7 linked regions of the Homo sapiens genome follow. The protein of the gene in region 2 interacts with the protein of the main gene of each other region in a pairwise test. Each region holds a gene or a part of one and is shown on either strand. Other genes may lie near its edges. The genes, in order: CASP6, CAPN3, CHAT, GSN, LAMP2, SH3GLB1 and ZNF410.

Evidence for each region.
Region 1: the proteins of CAPN3 (region 2) and CASP6 interact in binary tests that used the Homo sapiens proteins (3 or more experiments, as listed by UniProt).
Region 3: the proteins of CAPN3 (region 2) and CHAT interact in binary tests that used the Homo sapiens proteins (3 or more experiments, as listed by UniProt).
Region 4: the proteins of CAPN3 (region 2) and GSN interact in binary tests that used the Homo sapiens proteins (3 or more experiments, as listed by UniProt).
Region 5: the proteins of CAPN3 (region 2) and LAMP2 interact in binary tests that used the Homo sapiens proteins (3 or more experiments, as listed by UniProt).
Region 6: the proteins of CAPN3 (region 2) and SH3GLB1 interact in binary tests that used the Homo sapiens proteins (3 or more experiments, as listed by UniProt).
Region 7: the proteins of CAPN3 (region 2) and ZNF410 interact in binary tests that used the Homo sapiens proteins (3 or more experiments, as listed by UniProt).

The regions. Positions count from the first base shown.
Region 1 is NC_000004.12:109,687,723-109,691,344, forward strand, and holds the end of CASP6 (caspase-6 isoform alpha precursor), read right to left. Parts: intron 3,288-3,622; coding exon 3,128-3,287; intron 1,847-3,127; coding exon 1,608-1,846; 3' UTR 906-1,607; downstream 1-905.
Region 2 is NC_000015.10:42,404,035-42,408,000, forward strand, and holds part of CAPN3 (calpain-3), read left to right. Parts: intron 1-729; exon of another isoform or gene 730-921; intron 922-1,891; coding exon 1,892-1,909; intron 1,910-3,966. UniProt on the Homo sapiens protein: Calcium-regulated non-lysosomal thiol-protease. Proteolytically cleaves CTBP1 at 'His-409'. Mediates, with UTP25, the proteasome-independent degradation of p53/TP53.
Region 3 is NC_000010.11:49,623,521-49,627,983, reverse strand, and holds part of CHAT (choline O-acetyltransferase), read right to left. Parts: intron 2,512-4,463; coding exon 2,331-2,511; intron 377-2,330; coding exon 199-376; intron 1-198. UniProt on the Homo sapiens protein: Catalyzes the reversible synthesis of acetylcholine (ACh) from acetyl CoA and choline at cholinergic synapses.
Region 4 is NC_000009.12:121,270,679-121,275,141, forward strand, and holds part of GSN (gelsolin), read left to right. Parts: intron 1-1,131; exon of another isoform or gene 1,132-1,185; intron 1,186-4,463. UniProt on the Homo sapiens protein: Calcium-regulated, actin-modulating protein that binds to the plus (or barbed) ends of actin monomers or filaments, preventing monomer exchange (end-blocking or capping).
Region 5 is NC_000023.11:120,427,510-120,431,296, reverse strand, and holds part of LAMP2 (lysosome-associated membrane glycoprotein 2 isoform A precursor), read left to right. Parts: 3' UTR 1-2,670; coding exon of another isoform or gene 2,671-2,813; 3' UTR 2,814-3,787. UniProt on the Homo sapiens protein: Lysosomal membrane glycoprotein which plays an important role in lysosome biogenesis, lysosomal pH regulation and autophagy.
Region 6 is NC_000001.11:86,744,956-86,748,973, reverse strand, and holds the end of SH3GLB1 (endophilin-B1), read right to left. Parts: 3' UTR 790-4,018; downstream 1-789. UniProt on the Homo sapiens protein: May be required for normal outer mitochondrial membrane dynamics. Required for coatomer-mediated retrograde transport in certain cells. May recruit other proteins to membranes with high curvature. May promote membrane fusion.
Region 7 is NC_000014.9:73,921,084-73,925,546, reverse strand, and holds part of ZNF410 (zinc finger protein 410), read right to left. Parts: coding exon 4,442-4,463; intron 3,482-4,441; coding exon 3,341-3,481; intron 2,849-3,340; exon of another isoform or gene 2,811-2,848; intron 2,153-2,810; coding exon 2,025-2,152; intron 846-2,024; coding exon of another isoform or gene 744-845; exon of another isoform or gene 728-743; intron 1-727. UniProt on the Homo sapiens protein: Transcription factor that binds to the sequence motif 5'-CATCCCATAATA-3', and is specifically required to silence expression of fetal hemoglobin in adult erythroid cells.

The sequences.
Region 1 (3,622 bases), on a different chromosome or scaffold from region 2:
TTTGAAGTTCTCAACTGAGATTTTTACTTTTTGGATTTTTATGACTTGCTAATGTTAGAAAGGGCTTGTATGCGTCTATCAAAGCAACGGTGGCTGCTGTTAGCTAAAAATCCTTGTCAGCTTGTCCCACGTTTATTCTCTATGTGGAGGTGAAAGGGTCTGTGCTTGGCATTCACTTCCATTCTTAGACTTAATTTGGAATCATCCTTTTAAAAAAATCAGAGACCAGGTCTTGCCAAATCAAACTCCTGGGCTCAAGCAACCCTCCTGCCTCAACCTCCCACGGAATCGTCTTGTCATTAACTTCTTTTTTTAATATGCAGTAGTTGGGAGTAAGATCTTTTTATCATTTATCAAAAAGGCATAAATGTTCCACCAACCATAAAGTATAGTTGGTACTTTTTGAACTTCAACTGAAACAGTGTATATAAACGATTGCTTTTGAACCTGCAAATCACAAGTTTCAGGTATCGAAGCCAAAACAGTTAACTTTCTTCAGCCTCTGGCAGATTATTAACAAAACAGTATTATTCAGATTCTATATCATATTAATAAGAATTGAACCTTGAAAGTAACATCTGTTATTCTATTAATGTGATTGTGTGTGAATGGGTCTGATGACTGTTGGACTGTTTGTAGGAACTTAACATGGAAGATGCTGACAGAATCAGATTTTGCAGGTGTTCAACCTATAGTGGCTAAGAATTATGTTTTCTATTTCATCCTCAGAATGCCATACAACAATTCTGGAATGCTGATTTTTTTTAAAGTAGGAATTAAAGTCATACACAAAATGTGGTAATTCATATGTAGATGAAATATTAAACATTTAAATGACCGAGTAAAAAACATCTATCAATTACACAAATGAACAAGAATGTGAGTTAGAAAAATGTAATAAAATATGAATTTCGAATATTTTATTAAGGGATGATTTAATTCCTGGATTTCAAAAACCTTTAAAAACATCAAACAATAAACTTTTATAAAAAAGTGACAAAATACAAGTTAAATCAGCTAGATTTTTGTGTAACCCTGCAGTTTATTAAAAAATAATACAAATGCTTATAAATTTTTATTTATCTAATTTCCTGAGGATTTTGTTTCTCCATATCAAACCCTTTCACCATGGCCAACATGAACTTTTTTTTTTTTTTTTTAAGGCAGTTCTCTGCTAGGCATTAAACTTTAAAACATTTGAATCATTAGACCATAATGCTTCACCCTAACGATATTTATATAAAAGGAAGAGAAAGACATTTTCTTTTTTTTGAGACGGAGTTTCACTCGTTGCCCAGGCTGGAGTGCAATGGCGCAATCTCGGCTCACCGCAGCCTCCACCTCCTGGGTTCAAGTGATTCTCCTGCCTCAGCCTTCCAAGTAGCTGGGATTGCAGGCATGCGCCGCCATGCCTAGCTAAATTTTTTTTTGCATTTTTAGTAGAGACGGGGCTTCTCCATGTTGGTCAGGCTGGTCTCGAACTCCCGACCTCAGGTGATCCGCCCACCTTGGACTCCCAAAGTGCTGGGATTACAGGTGTGAGTAACCACGCCTGGCTGAGAAAGCCATTTTCAATACAGAGTGTAAAATTAGATAGCCTCTATTAATTAATTAGATTTTGGAAAGAAATGCAGCTTTTTAGTTAGCATTGAGGCAAAACAGGGAACCTGCTTCTTTCCAATTGCACTTGGGTCTTTGCAAAAGTCCACTCGGCGCTGAGAAACTTTCCTGTTCACCAGTGTGAGGAGTTCTGTGAACTCTAAGGAGGAGCCATATTTTCCCAACATCTCACACAAATCTTGAATGTACCATGAGCCGTTCACAGTTTCCCGGTGAGAATAATATCCTAAAAAAGTGAGAAGGAAAATGTTGCTGCAGTTTTCTGGCTTTCAATTACTGTGTGTATTCTTTTTAGTTACAGAAGTATAAGTTCTTAAAAATCCTTAGAAGAGTCTTAAGATGTGTCCATGATATAAATGGCTTTTAAATTTTTTTGACTCTTTTCAAATGGGAAAAGAGATTAATTCTATATAGTTTTATATACACGGGGTTAATTCTGTATAATTTCTTCCATTTCCTAAAAAATTCCCAAGATAGACAATGATTGAGACATGAGATTACTAAAAAGAAGTCAAAATTATTTACTACAAAAGCAAAGAACCATTATCAAAATATTTTTCAGTTGGGCATGGTGGCTCATGCCTATAATCCCAGCACTTTGGGAGGCTGAGGCAGGCAGATCACTTGAGGTCAGGAGTTCGAGACCAGCCTGGCCAACATGGTGAAACCCCATCTCTACTAAAACTACAAAAATTAGCTTGGCGTGGTGGCAGGCACCTGTATTCCCAGCTACTCGGGAGGCTGAGGTAGGAGAATCACTTGAACCCAGGAGGCAGAGGTTGCAGTGAGCTGACATTGGACCACTGCACTCCCGCCTGGGCAACAGAGTGAGACTATTAAAAAAAAAAAAAAATACACACACACACACACGTCTGGGCAACAGAGTGAGACTATAAAAAAAAAAAACGCACGCACGCACGCAATGGCTCATACCTGTACTCCCAGCACTTTGGGAGGCCAAGGCTGGAGGATTGTTTGAGACCAGCCTGGGCAACATAGCAAGACCCAATCTCTACCGAAAAATTAAAAAGTTAGCCAAGCATGGTGGTGCATGCCTATAGTCCCAGCTACAGGGGGGCTGAGGTGGGAGGATTGCTTGAGCCTGAGAAATTGAGGCTGCAGTGAGCCATGATCATGCCATTGCACTTCAGCCTCAGTGACAGAGTTGAGACCTTGTCTCAAAAAAAAAAAAAATTAAAGCTTTCCATGACAATTACCACAATGGCACTACCACCCTCAGTAACTGATGGTAGGCTGCTAATACTAATATAATTAATTAGACTGTTGCTTTACTCAACATAACTCTCAGGAATTATTTTTCTGTAAGGTACTTTACACTTTCATTTATCACTCTGTGCCATGTGGTCAAAGAAATTCTAAGTCTGTGAGCTTCAGGATGGAATCACCATGTCCCAACCGAAAGATCTGACCCAAACCAATCAAAGGTGAAACTTACAGGACCTTAGCCAAGAGAGGCAATTATATGTTTGTTTTAAACACCACACACCTTCTGCAACAGAGTAACACATGAGGAAGTCAGCTCCAGCAGGCAGCGTGTAAACGGAGGCTGCATCCACCTCAGTTATGTTGGTGTCCAACTTCTCTGTCTGATTATCTACTACATCCAAAGGAATGACTGGCACATCGTGCTGGTTTCCCCGACATGCCTACAAGACAAGGAGGAAAAACCCACCTCTTTGCCTACTGTTTCCTTCCCAGTGCTTAATGTGTGCAGTGAATGTGTAAGCCAGTACCCCTTCATTACAACAGAAACCACATTCTGAGCAGTTCAGAAGCAATACATTCAGGTTTGGAGGGCACAAAAGCCAACAAAGTTGTTTCCTTACTTAGGCTTTCTTTTAGTTAATGTTTTAAGAAAAAATTGGCATCCCCAAGTATACATCAAATTATGTTGGTAGAAGGGTATACTGTAGAGGAAAAAGCTTGTGGTTTTAAAATTTCTTACAGATTAACCACACCCAGGGCACACGGTGTTACCTTC
Region 2 (3,966 bases):
ACAATCGGAGGGAACAAGGCCACAGGAAGGGATGACAAGAGCCGCAGCGAACACTGGATTCTGAGACTGGATAACATTGGATTTCACACATAGAGAAAAGAAAGTAAGCTGGTGCCGGACCTGGTGTTGACACTTGGATCCTCCACTTACCAGCGGGGTGACCTGGACAATTTCTGTAATCCCTCTCACTCAGTTTCCTACTCAGTAAAACGGGGATGATAATGTGCCTTGCAAGGCTTTTGTGAGGCTTCATCAATGAGGTGATGTATGTGAAGTGTCTGGCACAGCATGGGCACTCAAACAGAGGTGCTTTTTCACACTTTACACCTTACAAGGTACTTTTCACATGTGTCATCGCGATACTTGCAAGGTTGCTGAGAGGTAGATGGGGTTATAATCCCTGGTGTTCAAGAAAGGAAGCAGAGGCTCAATGGGGTTGAATGACTTCTCTGAGTTCACAGAGCTCAGTAAGTGGCAGGGTTGGAACTCACATTCAGACTCTCTGACTCCAGACTTAGGTTTTTCCGCACCTCCACGCTGAGGCCAGCCCCAGGCAGTGAGAAGCCCAAAGTCCGAAGCACAGAGTGCTGTGTGTTGGGCTCTGTGTGTTGAGGAGTCTTGTGACTGCCTTGGGGCTTTGGGCTGTAGTCAGCTGACAGTCCTTTGTGCTCTGTGGGGATGACGTAGGCCAATGGGAGGACAAATGCCCCTCTGAACTGTCTTCTGGGCAGTGACAGTCATGGTCATAATCCTGACCCTGAGCCAGTGCCAGGTCTCCAAGTGCCTTCTGAATGACCACAGGCGATTGGTTTTAGTGGTAGGTGTGTGGGGATCTGTTCTGGTCATCTGGATGCTGGTCATCGGTGTGCAGTATTGATCAGGACCTGCAAACCCAAAAGCTTATGGGAGCTGGCACGTCACGTGAGTAGAGCAGGCAGGTGCAGGGGTTTTGATGTCCCTGCACTGACACAGTTGTCTGCAGTTCTCAATTGACATTTCGCTCCAGTGTCGAGGGTCAACAGGAATGTTGGGGCGTGGGGCAATCTGGAAGACACAGGGAGCAGGGCCCTTGGCTCAGCTGATAGTTGCCGCAGGGATTACAGGCCCAGGGCAGCCTGCCACAGCTGGGGCTTTTACCAAAGAAAATCTCCCTATGTTAAATGCTTGCTCAAAAATTTTTAAAAAATATTCTGTAAGTCAAAATCCATTGTTAGGTCAGTTTGAGAGAGCCATGTTTTTGGTGTTTTAGTAACCAATTTCATTTTTTTATTATTTATTTATTTGTTTATTTTTGAGACGGAGTTTCACTCTTGTCACCCAGGCTGGAGTGCAATGGCATGATCTCAGCTCACTGCAACCTCCGCCTCCCGGGTTCAAGCAATTCTCCTGCCTCAGCCTCCTGAGTAGCTGAGATTACAGGTGCCCACCATCACGCCTGGATAATTTTTGTATTTTTTAGTCGAGATGGGGTTTCACCATGTTGGCCAGGATAGTCCTGAACTACTGACCTCAGATAATCCGCCCACCTCAGCCTCCCAAAGTGCTGGGATTACAGGCATGAGCCAGCACGCCCGGCCACCAATTTCATTTTTTAAAAAAGGAAGAAAGAAAACCTTAGCCAGAAGATCTTTTTCCTTGCCATATGCAGTAAGAGTAGATTATAAAAACAAAGTCAGAGCAGTCACTGGTGTCTGGGCATGGAGGAGAAAGAAGAATTCTCTTCTCCCTTCACCCTCCATGCCCCTTTTTGGCTCCATGTGATTCAGATTTCTGGACCCTGGAGCCCCACCCCAAGCTAAAGACCAGGATACAGGGAAGCCAAAAGCCACTGGCGGTTCTGAGAACTTACTTTTCACTTATTCTGCATTTACTGTTTCCTTTTCTTATGCAGAAAAAGAAAAAAACCAAGGTAGGTGTGTGGGTAGAGAGCATGAAGTGTGTGTACTCATGCATATGTATGTGCATGCATGTGAAGTGTGCATGTGTGAGCTCATATGCATCCATGCACCAGACTTGCCTCTTCCTCCCCCTCCTTCCTGAGCTTCTGCTGGGGCCGAGCGTGCAGTAATGACAACTACGATTTGCTGGGGGAAGGCTACGTGCCAAGCACTCTTTTAGGTGCTTTCCATGATTAATTCCTTCCTCACAACAGCCCTATGAGATTAGTACTATAACTATCCCCATTTTCAGAGGGAGAAAAGGTACAGACTTGACTAACTTGCCCAAGGCCACACAGCCAGAGAGGGGCAGAGCCAGTACTTAGAGCCAGGCAGTCTGGGTCCAGAGTCCGTGTCCTGAACCACAAGAGGCCATCATACACCATCAGATTTGGTGCTAGCATTTCTGGTGGTGCCTGGTGGTGATGGATCCATCACAGGGGTCCTCCAGGTACTGGTGCTGGCCCAGACCAGAGCTGACACTCCTCAGGCACTACCACATTCCAGGCACTGTGCTTGGGGTCAGTCCCTCTCTTTTTTTTCCCCCCCAATTATAACAGTATCTACAAAGTAGGTGCTGTTATTTTTCCCCTTTCACAGGTGAGATAGACTCAAAGAAGTGAACTTGCCCAAGGAACAGAACTAATGAGTGGGGAAAATGGAACTGGAAACCATGTCTGTTTACTCCAAAACCTGTGTTTCTTGCCCTCTTTCTCTGATGCCAGCCCCCTACACTTCAAGGCCTGTGTTGTCCAGACCCACACTCGGGCCTGCCAGTGTGTGCCTGGCAGGGATGCTCCATGGCCACACCATATCCATCCTACACATCCCCCCTCAGACTGTGACCTCCATTTGCTCTGGGATCCCCACAAGCTTCAGCTGCTTGAGCAAGACACTGCTTAGAAGGCAGAGCAAGCCAAGGCCTCTGGGGCCTGCTGGGAGCCAAAGCTGGGGAGCCGTTTCCACGGGTCTATCTGCTTGAGCTGTCCTAGATGAGCAGCATGGAAGGGCAGTGGTGCATGAGTCCAGGCGGGCTGCTTTTCTGCTCCGAGAGGCTCTGCCTGCCCAGTTGTTCTCTGCATTGCAGCCTCAATCCCCACAGCCTTGCCTTCCCCCGGCTTTCCCTACAGGTGCACCGCATCCACAGTGTTGGCACCATGCAGCAGCCGCTCTCCGTCCTTTTCATATCCTTGTCACTTGCACGAGCATGTCTTGAAAATATCCCTTGTTTGTGTAGCATCTTAAATGTTTTTGCAGTATGATTTTGCATTCAGTATCTCATTTGATCCCCACAAGAGCCCTATGAGGAGGGAAAGCAGATTTTACCATTAAAGGATGAGTAAACTGAGGCCAGAGAGGATATTTTTGGTTTTTTTTGAGACAGTCTCACTCTGTCACCCAGCCTGGAGTGCAGTGGCTTGATCTTGGCTCACTGCAAGCTCCACCTCCCATGTTCACACCATTTTCCTGCCTCAGCCTCCCAAGTAGCTGGGACTACAGGCACCCACCACCACACCCAGCTAATTTTTTTGTATCTTTAGTAGAGATGGGGTTTCACCCAGTTAGCCAGGATGGTCTTGATCTCCTGACCTTGTGATCTGCCTGCTTCGGCCTCCTAAAGTGCTGGGATTACAGGCGTGAGCCACCGTGCCCGGCCAGAGAGGATATTTCTTATATGAGGGGCAGGGCTGGGATTCCAGCCCAGTGTTCTGATGGCTCACCCACTGACCATGCCACTAATCCGTGTCCTTTTTCAATCTATACTTTGCAGGGTTGTAGAGGTTCCTTTGAGGTGCCTCAGTAGCTGCCATGGTGATGTGGGGTGCTGAGGGCAAAGAGCTCTGTTCTCATTAATCAGAGAAGCTTGTGTTTTTATATACACCATGTTTCTGCAGGAAATTTAATTTGAACAGTGTTTCCATCTGGAAAAAAAAAAGTCTACAAAATACTTGACAATCACTGCACTAGATCATGCTGCTTTTAGCATTCTTAGCATTTCACGTGCTGAGCTCTCAATACTCTACCATGA
Region 3 (4,463 bases), on a different chromosome or scaffold from region 2:
ACTGTCAGATGGAACACGAGGGCACAAAAGGTGGCTTCGGTGGCAAGGCACTGTGGCTGGCCGCAGGGCATGCTGTGGGCCCTGAGCTCCCACACTATGGCTGATGGGGATGAGGCCCTGGCCCAACCCTAGAGGAGGGAAAGCCAATGGGCACGAGCATGAGATGGGCATGGAGATGTGCTGGGCACTGCGGCTGACCTTTCACGAGGACCGTCCTGGCCTCGGCCCACTCGCTCCTCCCGTCAGACGTCAGCAGGCCAATTGGAGGCAAACGCTCGTCCTCGTTGGAAGCCATTTTGACTATCTTTCTCAACTGAGTGAACAGATCCCCCTCACTGAGACGGCGGAAATTAATGACAACATCCAAGACAAAGAACTGTGGGGTAAACAGGTCAAACATGTCACTTGTTGGGTGGCCCGTGGCACCAGGCCTTCACTCAGCCTTCACAGGTAAGCTTGGGGCAGGGATGCTCAGGCCCAAGGTTCCCAAGGTGTTTGGTGGTTCTAGTCTCAGTTTAGGGACCAAGCCAAGGCTGTTGACTGTGCTGGATTCCACGCTGCCCCCAATCAAAGAAGGCAACATTAAACTTAGCCAAAAGAAAATGTGTTTCATGGTTCACGGAATCCATTATGTTTGTGGGGAATGGAATATAAATTGGCACAGCTACTGTTGGAGGGCAGTGTCTATCAAAACTAAAAATGTGCATACCTATGACTAAGCAATTGCACTTATAAATGCATATTTTAGCCTGAGGCTTAGAGAAACGTACCCGTGTGTACCGGAAGACACGAGGAATGTGCCTCTCGGCCTTGTTTGCAACAGCAAAATGGTAGCAAGAGCCTCACTGTTCTCCAGAAGGGGAATGGCTAAGTGAAATGTGGTGTATATGTCTAGGGCATGTCTACCCAGCCATTGAAAAGAGTGAATTAGCAACAGATAGAGCCACAGTGATGGGCCTTAAACACACTGGTGAGTGGAGGAAAAAAAGCAAGCCAGCAATCATATGCAGAGGAAGATTAAAATGGAAAACCAACACACACCATGCGTGCATGTGCACCTACACATGTGTGCATGTGTGTGCACCTTCACATGTATACCTACATGTGCTTTGTATGTCAGCCCTGTGGTTTTGTCATTTTGTAGCTTTGAAGGCTAGAGCCTTGGGCTTTGTGAAGGGTCTATTCCTAGACCCAGGTCAAGATACACTTTTCAGCTGATTGACATGAGTACCTTGTTTTCCCTTCCCCTCCAACCCCCTAGCAGTGTCTGTATGGCCTGGTCTTGTGCAGGGGCCCAGAGCATGTCTGGAAGAGGTGGATACGGTGGCCTGTGGGAGCTGGGAAATACTTGGCTTGACTTTTGAATGAAGATGGGGAAACGTCCTTGGTCTATGGCCAAGGTGTCAGGTGGGCTGCGAGAGCTCCTAGATGGCCTTCAAATCTAGGAACAGAGGTCACAGCTGCCCTCAGATGTCAGGGCTCCACAGAGCTCCCAACTTACTAAAAATGTGAGGAGAGCCCAGGATCACATTGTAGAGCAAGTACCAGGGGAGTCCCTGGGATGGTTGCCAAACTTGGGTTTTAGCAAAGCAAAAACAAAAACAAAACTGTTTGTCAGAGGAAATATTTATGTGAAGCTCAATATATGGAATATATAGTGCAGTGGGCACAGGGAAGAGGTCAGGAGCCCTCATGCTCAGCCTGTCCCCCAGGACCCATGGGTCCTTGTTGGCTCTGTGGAACCCAGTCTGAGGACCTGAGCTGCAGGGGGTAGAGCATGACCTTAGGGCACTGGCCAGACCCAGGATTCCTTCCCACTCTTGGACAGACCACTTAACTTGTCTGAGTCTCATGTCCTCAACTGTCACACAGAGATCCTAAGGCCCCCTCTGCATGGTCACTGTGAGGATTAAGTGGGATGAATGCATGTTAAGTGCTGAGCCCACAGGCTGACACATGAAAGGTCCTATTTGTCAGTCTGTAACACTGTCTGTCTGTGTGTGGTCTCCAGAAAGGCCAGAGCCTGGGTGACTGCATGGAAAAGAACAGATGTACAGGTGGAGGTCTCGATCATGACCCTCAGTGCATCAGTGCTGAAGTGAGAGTCCAGTGAGGATATTCTCAAACTGACGGCTCTCATTCTTAGAAGGCAACTGGTGGAGAGACATGGGACTGACTGGAAGTAGGGGCCCCACTTTGGAGACATGGTGCCCCAGCTCCCTGTGTGACTCAGGGAAGGAGGCTGAGCCCCCTCGGAGAAGGTAATGGACGTGAACGCATGGCCACTGTATGCTCTGTGCCCTCCCTCACCAAGACAAGGGGTTGCTTACCTGATTGCAGCAGGCTACGATGACGTGCTCAGGCTCCGGCATGATGCTGCTGTTCTGAGCCACCAGCGTGTCCTGGGTATGGCCGGGGAGCCGGTAGGAGGAGAAGAGCCCATAGTATTGCTTCATGCAAAGGGGCTGCCCTGACAGCTGGCCTTTGGCACAGTCAGTGGGAATGGAGTGGCTGAAGGAGAGGAGTGGGAAGGGAGGCAGCCACGAGGGGATGGTGGGTGGTGAGGGGAGACAGAGAATGGGTTTTATTGTAACTTGATCAGGCAAAATGGGGCACAGAACCCAGAACTGCATCATCATGGCAGATGCAGAGCTCAATTCTCCACTTTTTAAAGTAGTGGAGGCCCCATTTCCACAACACGTGGAGACCCTCAGAGTTTTCTCAAACCTCTGCCTCATGCACGGCATGTGCAAAGCCTGCCAGTTAGCCTTCTGCATCTTTGCTTATGCTGATCTTCTCTCGGCGTGCCTTTGCCCCAACCCCAGAACTCAACTGTTCTATTCAGAAAACTCCTTCCCCTCCTTCAAGAGCCTACTCCTTTATCATCTCTTTTAGAAGCCTCTTCTGAGGTCAATGCAGGAAGTTCTTTTTCCCTCTGGTCTCAGCATGCCTTGTGCCTATCCTTCCTTTCTCCCTCCCTTTCTTCCATCCATCCACCCATCCATCTATCCATCATCCATCCATATATCCATACATCTACCATACTTCTACCACGAAACATCCATCCCTCCTTCCACCCACCACCCACTCATCTATCCACCATCCACACATCTATCCACCATCCATCTATCCTTGCATCCACCCATCCATCCACCAAGCATCCATCCATCCTTCCATCGACCCATCCATCCACCATCCACCCATCTATCCACCATCCATCCATCTTTCCATCCATCCATCCATCCATCCATCCGTCCATCCATCCTTCCTTCCTTCCACTCTTTCAGCCAACAAATATTTGTGAAGCACGTCCTCCGTATAGGCCAGGCACCATTCTGGGATGTGGGGATATGGCAGCAAATAAGACATGCAGCTCCTGCTCTACTGGGGTGTAAGTCCTAGGATGTGTAGGTAGGGAGTAGACCACAAGCAGCAAACCAGTGAACAGGAGACTGTCAGGTAGTGAGACAGAGTGTTGGCAGGGACAGGAGGTGGTGACCAGGGGCAGTCTCACTGAGGCAGGTTGATTGAGCTGAGCCCTAAGGGTGAAGTGTCCCAAAGCACTGCAACTCAAAGTATGAGTATTGCACTGAACTGCTGTGACTGACCCATGACTTGGTGTAATGCCTGAACCCAGAAATGTTTGTAGCAATGTGATGGGAGTTTTATGTCTGTTGAATCCTGTAATAAAACATTTGGTCTCATATTTCATACCGTTTTTCTAGTAATCAATTTTTTGTTGTTTTTCACAAATTTTACAAAATGAAAGAAAATATATTGGTTCTTCCCCAGAGGCAGCTTGAGAAGCACTGATCAAAGGCAGAGAGAAGCCAGTGGGGCTGAGGCCCAGTGAAGACAGGGCCAGAGAGGTGGGCAGGCCAGGTCCTGTGGGGCTCCAGTGGCAGTGGAGAGGAGCTATCGCCTTATTCTTGGTGCAGTGAAAGCCCTTGGGAGGCTTTAGCACGCAGGGGCATGACTGGGTTTCCATTTTGTTGTTTTACTGACCCTGCTTATATGGGGAGAATGGACTGAAAGGTGTCACAGGAAGAACAAGGAAGGAGGTTGTGGCAGAGAAGGAACGTGATGTCTTGTGAGGGCAGCAGGGAAGGAGGAGGGAGCTTGGGGACACAGTGGGGAGGGAGAATGACCACATCTGAGCACCATGGGTTACATGAAGGTGCAAGGGAGAAAGCAGAACAAGCACAGGTGACTTCTAGGTTCCCAGACTCACCAACAGGGCATGTGCTGGTGCACTTACGGACATGGCTCGACAAGGTATGGGAGGAGTTGGGGAATGGGGAGGGAGAGGCGAAGCTCTCCTGGCTCATTTGTAATGACTGAGAGACACCCCGGTGGGGATGGCTGAGGCTTGGATGAGCGAGTGTGGGACTCAGGGGAAGGGACACAGCTGTATTTTGTGTCTGTTTAAGTGACTGTCTTGCCCAATAGTCTAAGGACATTTT
Region 4 (4,463 bases), on a different chromosome or scaffold from region 2:
TAACAATGGTGTGTGCACTCCTGCCAAACACGTTGATTGGATGCCTTCACTTTTAGCCATCCAGTGACAGTGGGTCACTTTCCCCTACTCCATGTGAATAGTTTGGGTCATTTGTGATGTGGGTCATAGAGATGATTTCTGCTTGGTCTATGGTACGTTGCTGAGACACTGAGCTCTGGTTTTCTTTAAGAAAACTTTTACATCCTGTGTCTGCGGCCTCTGGGTGTGTATATTTGCTTATCAGAGACCACAGGTGTGAGAGAAGTTAGAAGCACTGACTTGGAAATGGACCCCCAGTCTTGGTTCTTTGGGTGACCTTGGGCAAATCCTATCTCTCTGAGCCTCTGGTTCCTCATGTGTAAAATGGAGAGATGTTGGTTTGCATGATAATAATAAAAAGCTATCTTTTAACTGGGCATGGTGGCTCACACCTGCAGTTCCAGCATTTTGGGAGGCCGAGTTGGGTTGATGGCTTAAGCCAGGAGTTTGAGACCAGCCTGGTCAACATGGTGAAACCCTGTCTCTACTGAAAATACGTGCTGGGATGCTCCTGTAATCCTAGCTACTTGGGAGGCTGAGGTATGAGAATTGCTTAAACCCTGGAGACGGAGGTTACAGTAAGCTGAAATCACGCCACTGCACTCCAGCCTGGATGACAGAACAATACTGTCTCAAAACAAAAAAAGAAAAGACAAAAAAAGCTATCTTTTAATATACCAAGCACTGGAACATTAATTACTTTATTGATTCCTTGCAACCATTCCTCTGAGGTAGATACTAGTATCTTCTTTTACAGATGAGGAAACTGAGTCCGAGGCTGAATAACATGCCCCGGGTTGTGTGGCTATTGGGTGATGGTGCAAGGATTCCAGAGGTCTGACGACAGAGCCATAGCTATTAATGACAGCACTAAACATTCTCTTGAAAATTCTTTCTAGTCCTGGTATTAGGAGAACTGGTAAGGGAGTTTGTTATGCTTTTATGAGGGGTGGGTGTCGGTGTGCAGAGCTTGGAGAGCTCAGCCCTGCAGCAGAGAGGCCTGGAGGGGCCTCCCGGGGCTGTTTGTAAACTCATGCTTTCCTGTGCCATCCGCAGGACCCTCAGTGCAGGTCAATCTCCCCTCCATTTCAGGGAATCCAGGCTCCAAAAGGACACAGGACTTGCCCAGCAAGGTCATGTGGTGAGGTGAGAGCCCAGCCAGGACTGGTCCCCCCTTTTCATCAATCAAGCTTATGCTCTGGAAATCTATCTGGCGAAGCCAGGAAAACTGGACACTCTCCTGCTCCTTGGTTATTCCCTGAGAAAATGCCAGCAGAAGCAGAGAAAAGCACGTCCCAGGGGTTATGCATTTTGGGGAGGAAGGGAAAAAAAGAGACCAGTGTTTAGGCAGCCGGGGGATGTTAAGTAAAAATATCTCCTCGCTTTCAACGGAGTGAGCGTGTGTCATATTTCAGCCTGATGTGGTTTGTGAAGTTGGAGACCACAGGCAGGCTCAGTTCCTGCTGCTGGCCAGCTTCCCCTTCCCTCTGTCCCTCCCCTGCCATATGCCTGCTCTCGTCTGCCCTGCCTGGGACCACATCAGCAATTTAAGAATAGGGCAGAGAAAAGCAGTGGGTGTTGTGGGCAAGGGTAGGCAGCTGAAGGCCTGGGCTTGGGTCCTGGCTTTGCCAGTGACAAAGTACTGGGTGACTTGGGCTAATGCATGCCTTTCTCTGGGCCCCAGTGTCCATTCTGCACTGTAGGGTGGACAGCATAATGTCAGCCTTCCCAGCTCTGATGGCCTCTGAGTTGGAGGGCTTTGTGCTCCCCACATGTACTTGGGTCCGGCATGTCTGAGACACAAAGTGAGCCCGCAGTGGTGCAACTGGTGATTCAGCTACTGTTCTTGAATTTAATCTTTTCGGACTGAATTGATTGCCCCATTTTGCAGATAAGGGAGTTGAGGCCTAGGATTTGTTGATGTATCCCATTCCCTGCTCTACAAGCAACAATAATAAGGGCCACCATATGTAACACACTTACTATGTATGTTCACCTTTTGCTTTCACTATCTGCTTTAATCTTTTAACAGATCTACGAGGGGAGAGATAGTGACTCCATTTTACAGATGAGGAAACTGAGGCTCAGTTTAGAAAAATGAAAGGACTTACGTTCTCTTCTTTGAGTCTCACAATAGTCCTGGGGTTGTCATTATGTGACCCATTTTACCAGTGAGGAAACTCAGGCCTGGAGACGTGAGCTCCTTTGCCCAGGGGTCCCCAGGGCCCACACACAGCCTGTCAGGTTCCTTCCCAGGCCCTCCTGCTCCTCCCTCCTCCCTTGCTTGCTCTGCCTCATGGGGAGCCTCTTCACCTCTTGCATTCAGTGCCTGGGTTAAGGGATGAGAACAGTTTTCTTCCTGGGCTATAAAGTATCCCTGAAATTGACTCTTCCCAAGAGTGATCCAGAAAGGCTTTAAGCCATGGAGCCTCGCAGGGAACTCCAGTGAAGGGGTCGCACCAGTGGGAGTGGATTCGTTTATTCTGCTGAGCTGGCTAAGCAAACAGTCCTGTTATTTTCCAACCTCAATAAGAATATCATCAGAGCCAAGCTTATTTGCCAAGCAAAGTATATATATTCTACATATGTGAGCCTTCAGGGTGGGGCTTGGCCCTTAATTTCCCTGCTACAGAGACTGTGGCTGAGCTGGGTTTTGGTGGGTACTAAGTAAATACTAGTTAACTTGTTGGGTGTGTGTTGATGATGTGGGTGGCATATGTACTTTTTTCTCCCCACCTCCAAGGACCTTTTCCCCCCACCCTTATTATTTCTATTACACTTGTGATAGAAAATTTAGGAAATAAAAAAGTATATATATAAAAAAGAAGTGTTCATAACTAACCAGAGAAAATCACTGCCAACACCTGGGTGCCCTTCCTTCCTGATATTTTCAGTGCATTTTTTTTTACCCCCACACAATTATCCTATATTTATAATTGTCTGTTCTGACTTTCTGTTTTTTCTCAACATTATATCGTAAGTATTTTTCTCATGTTATTAAGGATTCTTTTTAAATTTAATTTTTAAAAGTTTTAAAAGCATACTATACCTAAGTAGATAAATGTTTATTCTAATTTAAATCTTTTATTCCAATAGTCCTAGGGATTAAAAAATGAAATAATGCTTTTTATTTATTAACAAAAAGGCTGAGAGAAACAGGATTTGCCCAAGATCACCCCCAAAGAACCAAGACTGGGGCTCCCCAGGGCTGTAGTTTGCATCCATAAATACAGAGAGAATAATGTTTATAATCTTGGGTATAAAAACTTCTGGTGAAAAGGTTGATCAAATGCTAGCTGTATTTCTCCCCCTTCCATGGCTTTCTACTGAGTCTCTCTCTCCTACAGGACCCTACTTTGCTCCATAATTAAGCAGCAAAGTATTTCAAGAGCTGTTCAGATTCTAGAAACTCATAGCAGATGAAATCGACAGATAAGTCAGATATCGAATATAGACATTAAAAGATCTGGGCACTAGGCTGTACCCTGTTATTGTCAGTGGCTCTTTAGTCCTTAAACAAGGGTCTTGCCTCCTACTTTTTTTTTGTTATGGTAGAAATAAATGCCCACCCGAGTTTTCATCACTCACTATTATTCTATCTTTGGTGTGCCTGTACCATGTTCCCTTAACAATCCTCAATTATGAAACATTTAGGCAGTTTATAAACAATACTGCAATGAACAACCTAGTGCATACTTTTTTTGTGTGTTCTTCTTTTATTATTTCCTAGAAGTGAGCCCTAGAAATGGAGTTCCTGAGTCAAAATGACACATTTTATAGCTTTTTCTTGTTAAAAAAAAAATTCAGTGACACTTGTGAAAACACGGTAAGGAAGTCTTTATTCAGGAACATTGCCTTGGGCATAGGGACCACTGCAACAGGGTCCTACAGTGAGGGAGAGAGTTTGGGCTCAACTCCTAATACAGCATGGGCGAGTGGGAATTGATAGCTGCAGAGCAGGGTAGGGGTCAGCGGATGGAAAATTACTAAGAGGAAGCTCAGGAATAAGGGATATTCTTGCTAAACCGACCTAACAAAATTATTGATGAAGACAAACCAGGGTGATTCAAACATCAGTGGGGGCATGGTGGAGGATGAGGAGCCTGATCAGATATCAAGGATGAGGGGTTCTGGCTAAACAGACTTAGCAGGATTCTTTTGCTAAAACTGGATTTTACAAGGAAGTGCACAGGTAGGCCTAGGAGAAGGTTCAGAAGCCTGGCTAAAGTTTGGCCAAGCAAATAATCTGTGTCATGCTAAATTTTGCCAAATTTCTGCTCATAAAGGTTACAGTAGTCCTTATTCCTACCAGCCATCCGTGAGAATGGCAGCATTCTTCAGGAGCATCTGAAGCTGGTTATAAAAAGCTCAGCTGTCCTTTTATAGAATAGAGTACAGCGACCATTTTCCTGAAACGTTACATT
Region 5 (3,787 bases), on a different chromosome or scaffold from region 2:
AAATACATGCAAATAACAAGATTTTCTTACCTCTCAGTTGTTGAAACACTTTGCTTCTTAAAATTGATATGTTGAAACTTTAATTCTTTTATCAATCCCAGCATTTTGAGATCAGTCTTTATTAATAAAACCTGTTCTCTTTAATCAGCTTAAAATCCAAAGTGTCATATTTACTGGTCCTGGAGACAAACTTGTTCAAAAGAACATCAACGTGCAATGTTTTAAGGTCTATCTTAAGAAGCCCTGGCCAAATTTTGATCCTAACCTTGAAGTATGCCTTGAACTTATTAACATGGCCATTATAAGAATAAAATATGTAGTTGTGTCTTAATGGAATTAATAAATGTCATTTCACTACTGGTGTTCTGTTTCAATGTATAAGGACTATAGTGATTTAAACTCATCAATGTGCCTTTGCATAAAGTTCATTAAATAAATATTGATGTGGTATAAATGCCCATCAGATATGCTTAAACTTGGTTTTCAGTTGAATGAAGTAGAGAATGTCCTCAGGACCATCAGCATTTTAAAGGTTATGTGACTTTTGCTGATTTCTCTGAGTTCAAGTTAAGCATGAAGTTAGTACCTCAAGCCTGTGATTTTTCCCTAGGGATGATACAGACCCAAGAGGCTACAACAGAACTTAAACTGGCTTCGTAATTAGAGTTTTTAAGATAATTGTTTGTTTTTCAGCAATATAGACTGAAAAGATCCAAGCATATTTAGCCACTTGCTTTTTTGTTTCTTGTTTTGTTCTTCTTTGGATGCCTGATTAGTATTGAAAGATAGAAATATTCTATGAACTAATTAGGACAGATTGTGTTGTGTTTCTCTACCTCATCTTGTTGATCTCTGGAGCATTAAAATCTATTTAGTGTTGTCATCAGTGTGGTACTTATGAAATGTAAGCTAACAGCAATCTCAGAAGGGAGGCAGTGAAGCATAGCAACTAGGCTCTTGTTTCTTCAAGATGGCCCCTGTGGGGCAGTGCATAGATGGGGGTGTAAAGAGAAGCTGTTGGCATTAAAATGAGCTAGATAATCAGCCCTTGTTGAAGCATATTCCATGGTATAAGAGTAGCACAGACATGAAACATAGATAAAGAAGGAAGGCTTAATAGACTAGAAGACTTCCACATTGAAGTATTATTAACCCATTGTATGTATATAGGGGCATGATCAGAGTCTCTATAACTTCCTGATTAACAATACAGTGTATCTTGTTACCCAGCTGTCAGTCTTTGAGAGCTTTCAGTAAAATATAGTAAATTCTTTCAGCATAGGCTAATGTGTGGTTACTGAGATGAGTGTTGTGTACTCAGAACCGTAGCAACATTTTTATGAATGGTAAAAGTACAAGAGGAGGAAAAGTTAAAATTAGAAGAAAAGTACAAGTTATTGCTTAATCATAAATCACACCAGATAACACATTTTGTTAATTTCATTAGCTATTACTGGAAAGGACCTTAACGATTATTTACAGAAAGGGGAGTGAAATTCATTGAGGTTCCATATCAAGTGGGCAACAAAACTATTACTAGCATTTTGATAAAAATTGCCCCTAATGAAATCTAGTCACTCAACAGTAAAACAACAGCTGGTTTACACTTGAAATTATGAGATCAGAATTGGGCACTTTGGGCTTCCGTACTATGTTTTGCTTAAGTTTTTTTTTTAATACTAATATGGGCTTTTTCAGTAGTAATATACCAAAACACTTCTATTTTAATCTCTGTTTGCTACTTCAAAACCTAATCCTCCTCAGATGGGATCATGAGCATAAGAGGAAAAGAGAAGAGAATGAATACTTGTTGACCTCTTGATGTGTATCAGATGCTTTAGAAATGTAATTGTATTTAATCCTCAAATACCTTATAGGTATTATTATCCCCTTCTTACAGATGAGGAAAGTGAGGCCCAGTTTAAATAACTTGCCCAAGGTCCTTTGGCTAGTACTGGAAGGAGTCAAGATTTAAACACAGTTCTGTCTGAATCCAGAACTCAAAATCTACATTGCACATGTTGCTTTCCTGGTGGTTCGGTGGAATGGACTGCAACGCATTAGATACTGCTGTTATTCTTCCAGGCCACCGCTCAGCTAAAAATAATTGTGTGTGTGTGTATATATATATATATGTACACACACACACATATATATACACACACACATATATATACACATATACATATATATACACATATATATACACACACATATATATGTATATATATACTACATTCTTGATCCTAAGTCTTTTTTAACTTAAATTTTATTACTTATACAGAATTCTTATTTATACTTTAATTATAGGTGTGACGAAGAGAAAGAGAGTAGGGAAATACACAGGCAGTGGTTTTAAGTGTAGATGATGGCTCCTTAACCCAGTGTCATTAGATAATCAAACCTAAAGTCTTCCCATATTAGGCAAGCGCAATTCTCTATTTTGGACCCTTCCCATTCTTCCCTTACCTTCTGCTTTTCGTACTGAGGAATTTCGTGTGATTTTAGATAAAGTGATAATGAGATATTGAGCAAATAAGAAAATAGAGGTAATGCTATAAAAAACTAAGCTATGTACACTTTCAAAATGCATGTTTCTTGCATGCTTTTTACTACTTAATTGCATTCTTTGCTAATTTCCTTTCCTTGCTGTCTGTTCTTTTCTAACAGCTGAAGAATGTTCTGCTGACTCTGACCTCAACTTTCTTATTCCTGTTGCAGTGGGTGTGGCCTTGGGCTTCCTTATAATTGTTGTCTTTATCTCTTATATGATTGGAAGAAGGAAAAGTCGTACTGGTTATCAGTCTGTGTAATCAGTTAAATCTAGTGTTTGTTTGTTTTTTTCAATTAGAAGTTACGTTTCCATTGGCTAAAAGCCAGGACATGCTGTGCAATAGATTGTTTAAGATATGCAGACTAACTTCAGTGAGTTCCTAGCTAACTTGGGCATGAGTACACTTATTTAAGACAAAATATATTAGGACCAATTTTTTTCTGTTTTTTTTCTTCCTTTGTTAAAGTATAATTAAAAGAAAAATTGTGGCTTAGAATTTTTTAAGTAAATAATGATTTTAAGCCCCTGGATCCAATTATGAAAGCATTTTTGCTGATGTGTAATTTTATATGTTACAGTTACTTATATTTTACTACTTTGATGTTATTTGCAAAATCAAAGGTGTTAAAGAATTTAACTTGCTTCAGGAAATAAATTCAAGAACATAGTGGATTCATTTTCATTGGTGGCAGACACGAAATTTGGTTCATGATAAGACTTCCTTTCCCCACCTCCTGATCAGCATTATTTAAATCTGTATTTTTCTGTTAGTTAAGAAAGAAATGGCTTCATGATATTGTATTTAATAGCAAAAGTTTGGCTGTCTTCTTCATTACTGTTAATAGCTACTATATTTTAACAAGGAGATTTCTTTTTTTGTTGTTGTTGTTCTAGAGTTTGGAATATACTGATTATCTCAGACTTGACATTTATACTGAAGGATGAAGTAAGACCTCCAGCTTTTTTTAAAAAAGGTGTTGATTTGGAACACCTGTATGGGTTATGGTTTATTAAGGTTATGGTTTAGAAAGTTTTTTTCCCTCAGAGCCTTAACTTGTTAAGAAGGTTCATTTATCCTGCACTGAAAACAAAAACTCTATATACTTTGTTTGTGTGCCTCCTGCACTCTCCCATTCCCTATGTGAATATGCTCTAGTTGATATTTTTAATATATTGATTTCTTTTTTCTCACAGCAACAAGTGCTTACTCTAGAGGTTAGTGGGCCCTGATAT
Region 6 (4,018 bases), on a different chromosome or scaffold from region 2:
ATGGCAGTGATATTTACTCCAGAGGTTGACAATAGCAAATGCTCTAACATGCTCATCTATAAATCCTAGTAAGCCATAATATTATCCACTAGGTGCCAGCCACTCTTCATAATATGGTTAATCCTTTCAATGCTACAAGGTAGGTTTATAGTATTCTAATTCTAGAGATGAGTAAGCAGGCTCAAAGTGGGAGAGGTTTAATGACTGACAAAAGGCCAGGAAAACAAGTGGGAGAGCCACTGTTCTGCCTACCTTCCAAAATCCTACTTTCCCCACTACGGCTACATTCCCTAAATCCATCAACAGTACACCTGCATCAAAGATACCTCAAGATTCAAGTCTACTTAAGATTGTTCTTCTACTGTCTTTGCAAATGTCAGAAAGGTAATAATGCTTCCAGGAGACTGAATAAAAGCAAGAGGCAACTAGTACTACAAACATTTCCAAAGTAATACAAAATATATGATAAAGAGGGAAGAACAGTAAATGAATGTCATAATTTAAGAAACATTTAAGACTGGACTTTAATTTTGCAGGATCTTTTTATCTCCCTCTTACCCTTTATTTTTAAACCAAAGACTCCAAGAACATTCTAGTTGGAAGCCCTCCAAAAGAAACAGTATTCTCTCATATACTGCTGATAAAAGTATAAATTGCTTAGAGTTTTCTAGGGGGCAACATGGCAGTAACAAAAGCTTTTAAAAACTGGCATACCCTCTTCACTAGCAATTCCACTTCAAAGCATTTATCGTGAGAAAATATGAACACATACGAGATTTAGCAACACAATGTTCTTTAAAGCACTTTATTAATGAAAGTTGGAAACCTAAAAATTGAACAGTAGTTTAATAAAATGTGGCACATATGATGGAATATCATGCAGCCATTAAGAGATGTAGAAATATACTTGACACAGCAAGACAGTCATGGTATTGTTGAGTGAAAAAAAGTTACAAAACAGTATGTACACTTTGATCCCATTAAAAATATCTATAAATGCACAGAAAAGTCTGGAAGGCCATATACTTAAATAACAGTGGTTCTCCCTGGATGATGGAATTATCAGTGATTTTTCTTTCTCACTGAATCTTTTTTCTTTTTGCCAACAGGGCTATGACTTGTATTATAAAAAAGCATTAACAATTCTTTAAAAAGTGTCCTTTGAAGTAAGAATGAGAGCAGAACTTAGCAATCTAAGAGGCACAGGGATGTACACATGGTTTCTGATACTGTTTTAACGGTTTGTCAAGGTGTTTTGATGTTAGTCACCAATTAAAAGGCACTGTGTTGAGTGAAAACGTGGATGGTGGTAGTGCTTACTTTAGACTAAGCAATCCATTCCTAGAAACCTTCCACAGCAAACAAGTACTGGCATTCTAAGCAATACTTCCCACTATGATATCCTTATACCTTCCTACCCACTTGTAATACAGCCCAGAAGTTTCCCCTACATGGACAGGGCACTGTTGTTGGTTAAGGGTTACAGAAGGCAGAGAGGATTTTTCAAGTGATGTCAGAGAATAGGCCTGAAGGTGAAATGAATGTTCTCTTAGTTCTATTGCAGTGGTTCTCAAGCTTAGAGTGCAACAGTATTACTCAAACAGCTTTTACAACAGATTGCTGGGCTCCACTCTCAGAGTTTGATTCAGTAGGTCTCTGAAAAGGCTTATAAATTTGCATTTTTCTTTCATTCAACAAAAATTTATTGAGTTCATACTATGTCCTAGATCTTGTGCTAAGAGTTGGGAATGTAACTGCCATCAAAAGAATTATAGTTTTTATCTCAGGGAGCCTACATTCTAGAGTGACAGATATACACTAAACAAATAAATTATAAAAATAACTATAATTACAATGACTACTGCTAGAACACAATTAAGATTAGAAGACTCAGTTTTTGTCTTAAAATATTTAAAAAGCTGTCACATGGAAGACTGATTCCATGAGCCCTTGAAAACAAAAAATAAGTAAAAATGAAGGTAGAAAGTTCTTGAAAATAGTAATCAGCATTTTAAACAAGTCTCCAGGAGATGCCAATATTGCCGGTCTGGGGTCTCACACTTTGCCAATCACTGCTCTACTGAGTAGACATTTTTTCTTTCCTTGAGACAAGAGTCTTATTCTATCACCCAGGTTGGAGTGCAGTGGTGCAATCTTGGCTCACTGTAGCCTCTGCCTCTGGGGTTCAAGTGATTCTCCTGCCTCAGCCTCCCGAGTAGCTGGAATTACAGGTGCACGCCACCATGCCCGGCTAATTTTTATATTTTCAGTAGAGACAGGGTTTCCCCATGTTGGCCAGGCTGGTCTCGAACTCCTGACCTCAGATGATCCACCCGCCTCAGCCTCCAAAGTGCTGGGATTACAGGCATGAGCCACGGCACCCAGCCCTGAGTAGACTTTCTAATGAGCGTAATATGGGAGAAAGGGCAGGGGTGGTTGTGGAACTCTCTCTCCAGCGTTTGAGACTCACATGAGGTAAAAGCCACTTCATCTTATCTGGAGGTCTTGAGGCAAAGTTGGCTATAGGCTAAACTATGAAGCTATCTCTCCATTACAGCACCTCACTGAAGCTTAAAGTGCTAAATAGTAGGGCAATATTTCAGAATTTCAGGTGTTTGGGAGATAGGGAAGGAATTTTTCTGGAATTCTGTCAGCATGGAGGTGAGTGGGGCCTCTATGGGTAAACAAGTCTGTGGGTTTTTGCCTTGCCCTCCATTGTCTTCTCCACTCCACAGTTTATCCCAGAAATGTTTCCCCAACACTAGCTTCCCAGTCTCACTTTGTTCTTTGTTCAGGGGGAGGATAACAGGAGACTATGAAGATGACTCTACCCCACTGGTGATCCTGGCCTCAGGATTTATTTCCCATGTGACGCAGAGTGAGGAGGCACATTCCCATTTTTGAGACCTCATTTCTTGCAACATCAATTTTTCTGATTAGCACCATAAAAAGTTTTAACACCATGACCGTTTAGGTTAGATTACTTTGAGGAAAAAGGTAGACACAATCCAATCACTTTTTTTTTCATTTATAGAAGAGCCTACAATTATTTTAGTTTTTCATTCATATGTGCATCCTTCACATGTCACTATACTTTCAGATTAAGCTCAGTGGCACAGAGCTTATTTAAACAATTCTGAACTGCACCATGAATTAATAGGCTTCCCAAGCTTTTTCTTCCACGCCCAAGAAACTTCAGGCCTTTACCTGAGTAAAAACTAAACTTGACTTTAAAATAAGCCAAAACCAAAATAAAACCCAAACAACCAAACCCCATTAAAATAAAAAGCAATAAACCTAAGAACAAGCATATATATTGTGGTGGTTCTGTGGTAGACAAACGTACCAGAAGCCTTTGAAGCTTAACATTATTGAAGGTTTCTGTACATTACTGGGTAACTAAAATCAACTTTCACTTGATGGAAAGCTGAAAGTTCTGAAAAATGATTTATACTGACTGTGGGAAGGTTAAACCTGGGGTCTGATTTAAAGAGGGTGGAGGATAGGATTGATAGAGAGAAAACAGAGCCCAGATGTAAAAGAGGTATCTCTGGTGCACAGTGATATGCAAGGCCTATAGACTTGGTAGGTCAGGATGCTACAGGGGCTAACAAGGGGAAACTGATATTTACAGGATGTGTTTACTATGTGCCAAGCCTTTCCCTGAAAGGCACCTGAAATACAAGATAACATTTGCTAATCCTCACAACCACCCTATGGTGTCATAATTATTGTCCTCATTTTACTGGTAAGGAAAAGGCAGTTATACATCTCATTTGAAGCTTAAAGAGCACAATATGTGAGGAAGACTGGATTTGAACCCAGGACCATTTCACTCCATTACCGATATTCTTTCCCCTGTATTACTACATTTCCCATAAACCTAATTCATAGTTGCTGTTTAAGTCGATCTGAAGTTTTGGTATGATCTTTCAAAGCCTAAATCTGGACTTATAAAACACAATAGATGGTACTCTAGGCTGTAGAACTTCCTTTCTGAGGGGAGAGAAAATTTCAT
Region 7 (4,463 bases), on a different chromosome or scaffold from region 2:
CTGAGGCAGGAAAATTGCTTGAACCTGAGAGGCGGAGGTTGCAGTGAGCTGAGATCGCACCACTGCACTCCAGCCTGGGCGACAGTGGGACTCCATCTCAAAAAAAAAAAAAAGTCAAAGTTAGGAGACAGGTGTGAGCTGCCGCTCTCAGCCGTAACTTCGACTTCGACGTGGGTTTATCATACTAGTCTCTCTCTCACTGTACTCTGAAAATTTCCATAATAAAAGCTTTAAAATAGAAAAATGAAGACAAGAAAAATGGAGGAGAAAGAGGAAGGCTCCGTAAGTGAGATATGTATGATTCATTCCAAAGCAGTTACCAGAAAAAGTGACTTAGGAAAGAACCAATGATATCAAGATCAAAAACTTTAAATATAAGCAAAGACAATGGGTCACAACAATAAAAAGAAAAGTCCTGGCAAAAGCATTAACATGTATGCCCAGAACCCTGTAATCCTGGGTACCCCCAAAGATATTAGAGAATAATGGAGAATATTCAATATAGGATGCAGAGTCATTTGAATGATGCAACAGCTTACTGTGGTATAAAGGTTATAATGAAAAGAAGAAGGCTGGGTGCAGTGGCTCACGCCTGTAATTCCAGCACTTTGGGAGGCTGAGGTGGGCAGATCACGAGGTCAAGAGATCGAGACCATCCTGGCCAACATGGTGAAACCCTGTCTCTACTAAAAATACAAAAAAATTAGCTGGGCGTGGTGGCACGCACCTGTAGTAGCAGCTACTCAGGAGGCTGAGGCAGGAGAATCGCTTGAACCTGGGAGGCAGAGGTTGCAGTGAGCCGAGAACGCACCACTGCACTCCAGCCTGGGCAACGGAGCGAGACTCTGTCTCAAAAAAAAAAAGAAAAGAAAAGAGGAGAAAAGACGGAAGAGCACCATAAAAACTAATGTAATACTGAAAGGATCCAAGCTACAGAGGTTTTGACAAAAGTTTATGCATATGAAATGTGCTCGTGATGAAGTCATCCACTCCCATGACACAAGACCAGTGAAATATCCCAAGATTTTAAAACACTGACCACTTTGCATTCTGTTTCCTGAGTCAAAGCCAAACTACAGAGTTGAAAGTGCTTTAGCTCAACCTCAAACCCTTTTTGTTTAGATCAGAAGTCACCAACCCCCAGGCCATGGACCAGCACTGGTCCGTGCCCTGTTAGGAACCAGGCCACACAGCAGGAGGTGAGCAGCAGGTGAGCAAGCATTACCACCTGAGCTCCACCTCTCCTGTCAGATCAGCAGCAGCAACAGATTCTCATAGGAGCGCAAACCCTATTGTGAACTGTGTATTTGAGGGATCTAGGTTGCGCACTCCTTATCAGAATCTAATGCCTGATGACCTGAGGTGAAACGAAACCGGTCCCTGGTGCCAAAAAGGCTGGAGACCATTGATTTAGGTAATGGTTCTCACTTAGCAAGCAAGTGAACAAATCTGTATATGCCCATTTGGTTAAGCCTGGTATCTCCCAGACATATGACCATAGCAGAATGAACAATAATTATGTTTAATGATTTTGTTACTACCTTTTTTGCTGAGGGACTTTTTCCAGGATGTTATTTCTGGAGAAAAGAAAGGGATCTCTAGGAAATACTTGCTCCTGTCTGGTACAGAAATTTCACCCAATTTACACAGGCCAGGCCCTCTTCTCTGAATAACTTAACAGGTGAGGTCAACATGCATTTATTCAGTGCCTGCTGTGTGCTTTTATAAAATAAAAGCTGTATCATGTTATAGTGTGGCAGAGAATAGTGGGAACAGACATCAACAAGGAATGTATATAAAAGAACTTTAAAGCCGGGAGTCCCAGCTGTGACAGACCAATCTCCAATTCATTAAGACCCTAACCCTCAGGCTCCTTTCAAGCTGAACTCATGCTTAATTTAAAGGAAAATATTCGTGCCAAAGTTTCCAGGAAATGGAAACTGGAGACTTTTTCAGGTCCTCTAAATTCTCAATCATTCCCCACATGAATTGTCACAGAAACAAAGGGCAAGAGACCACTTTACCTCTTGTGGATTTACTGCAGTTAAGACAGAAACTTCATATGATTGCCTCCCTGACTGCATGGTCACCAGGTGATGTGTCACATCAGGCACTGAAGACAGGGAACGTGGGGATCCTTCAGCAAGCACCTCTGTGAAGCAACAGAAAAATGTTTCAATGAAAAGTGAATCCAGAGATACACCTATCTGGATCATTAAGCCTCTCATTAACAACTCTAAAACTCTATTCCTCTATTTCCCACATTCCTCTATTTCTTCCAAGTTAATCCTGTCTGATAAGCATTATCAGTGAATTTGGAAAGTAATATAAAAAGAGAATAGAAAGGCAAGAAATCTTAATACAGGATTTAGAATAATATGGTGTTAGCACTTTTAACTGAATTAAAACTATGTATGAAACAGGCAAAAGTCTTAGGCAAGCAGGTAAGGGAACCAAAGCCACCCTTAAAAGCAGTCGCCAATGATACTAATAGCACTTACTAACTGAATATGATATGAGTAACAAAAACATAGGGTCTCACAGTTACTAAATGTTCATCAGTGGGATCACCATGAAAATCTTCTGGAAATAGTTTATGGATATACCACTTAGCCCTCAAAAAACTAGAAGTTTCTTCTAGGGGTTTTCTAGATTATACAACTATTTTATGCTGTACCATATAATTTAATGTTGGCTTATATACTATCTTTTATGTACTCAATGTTCTTTCCCATATATATGTAAGCTTTCACTTCTCAACTGGATTTTAAGGTCCCTATCTTCTACTTTTGTCTTTCCCATGGTGCCAGGCACACAGTAGGCACTGAATAAATGCATGCTGACCTCACCTGTTAAGTTTTTCAGAGAAGAGGGCCTGGCCTGTGTAACTTGGGTGAAATTTCTATACCAGAGAGGAGCAAGTGTTTCCTAGAGAGCCCTTTCTTTTCTCCAGAAGATATGGCTTTTGAAGGTATGGAGAAATTGCTTTATATCTCCTCTGTAAAACCTGGTTATGTTCTGTTTAAATGTTCTAAAAGTTAAGTTCTTCCATAACTGCAATAGGAAAGATAGAAATAGTTGGGCTAGGATGCTAGGATTAGGAATAATTTTTTCTTAAGAATTTTTTCTTTTTATTCTTTTATTATATTATCTTCAATGAAAAAAAATTTTTTTTTAAACAGATTGACTAATCCACCCCAGAGAATAAGAACACAAATGCTACTCATACCACAGCTACTCATAAGAAATGAGATTTAAACATACATTGTGGAGACACCCCATTCCTTAGCCCCTAGTTGCAGCCCATTTTTCCCAAATAAAGGAGAGTTGGAAGTCTTACCATCATCAACTCCCAGGATAGAATTGGTATTTGGTAGGTTCAAGGACTCTCCACCAAGGCTGGGCTGGGAATTCATAGACACCAGGTTTTTACTGGGTACTGAAGCCTCTTCAAGCAAACTACTGCCCATTAGTGGCTCAGCTGCACAGAGAATAGGTTGTGAGAGACATACAGCAATCAAGGCTGTGCCTGGTCCTCATTTTCTTTCAACAGAAGCTGGCCTTCTCTTTCATTACTAGAAGTTAACCTATAGATGGGATGCCACCCCCTATTTCACCTACTTTCGAGAAACAAGAATAAACCTAGAAGGGAAAGAGTAAGCCTTAGAAGATAATGATCCTTGCTTGTGTTCAGCGTCTGAAGAATTAGCATATGAAACAGGATAGGTGGATCTTTAGAAAGGAATATTTGGAATAATTAAGGAAAGATATGGCGAAGGAATAAGAATTAAAAAGAGTTATCAAATTTCAGGCAGGGCAAAAAGGTAGTCATGACTGGTAAATAAAATATGCTTCCAGCCTGGCCAACATGGTGAAACCCCGTCTCTACAAAAATATAAAAATCAGCCAGGTGTGGTGGCACCTGCCTATAATCCCAGCTACTCAAGAGGCTGAGGCAGGAAAACTGCTTGAACCCAGGAGGCAGAGGTTGCAGTGAGTCGAGATGGCGCCACTGCACTCCAGCCTGGGTGACAAAGCAAGACTCCATCTAAAAAAATTAAAAAGCTTAAACTCTTCCCATGTGGAAATCTTTTATCACTGTGTTACTCAAATGCTTGTTCATGGATCAGCACTAGTTACCATCAAACTCACTAGGGAAACTTTTAAAACTACAGATTCTAGGATCTTGCAAATTATCTCATTTATCAGATTGCTTTGTTTTATTGGTGGGCGGACAAGCAACAAAAAGTATATAAATTTTAAAAGGTTGCAGATGATTCTACTGTATAGCTATGTTTGGAAACCATCAGCCCATCAAATGAGACCAGGTCTATCTACCCAAAACAGAATCAGAAAATTTCCAGATAAGCAGGCAGGACAGTGATTTGGCTCTTGGAACCCTAGAAGTAGTACAGCGTTCCACTATGCCCACCCTCCTCACCAGTTTGCTCCTGCTCTTGACT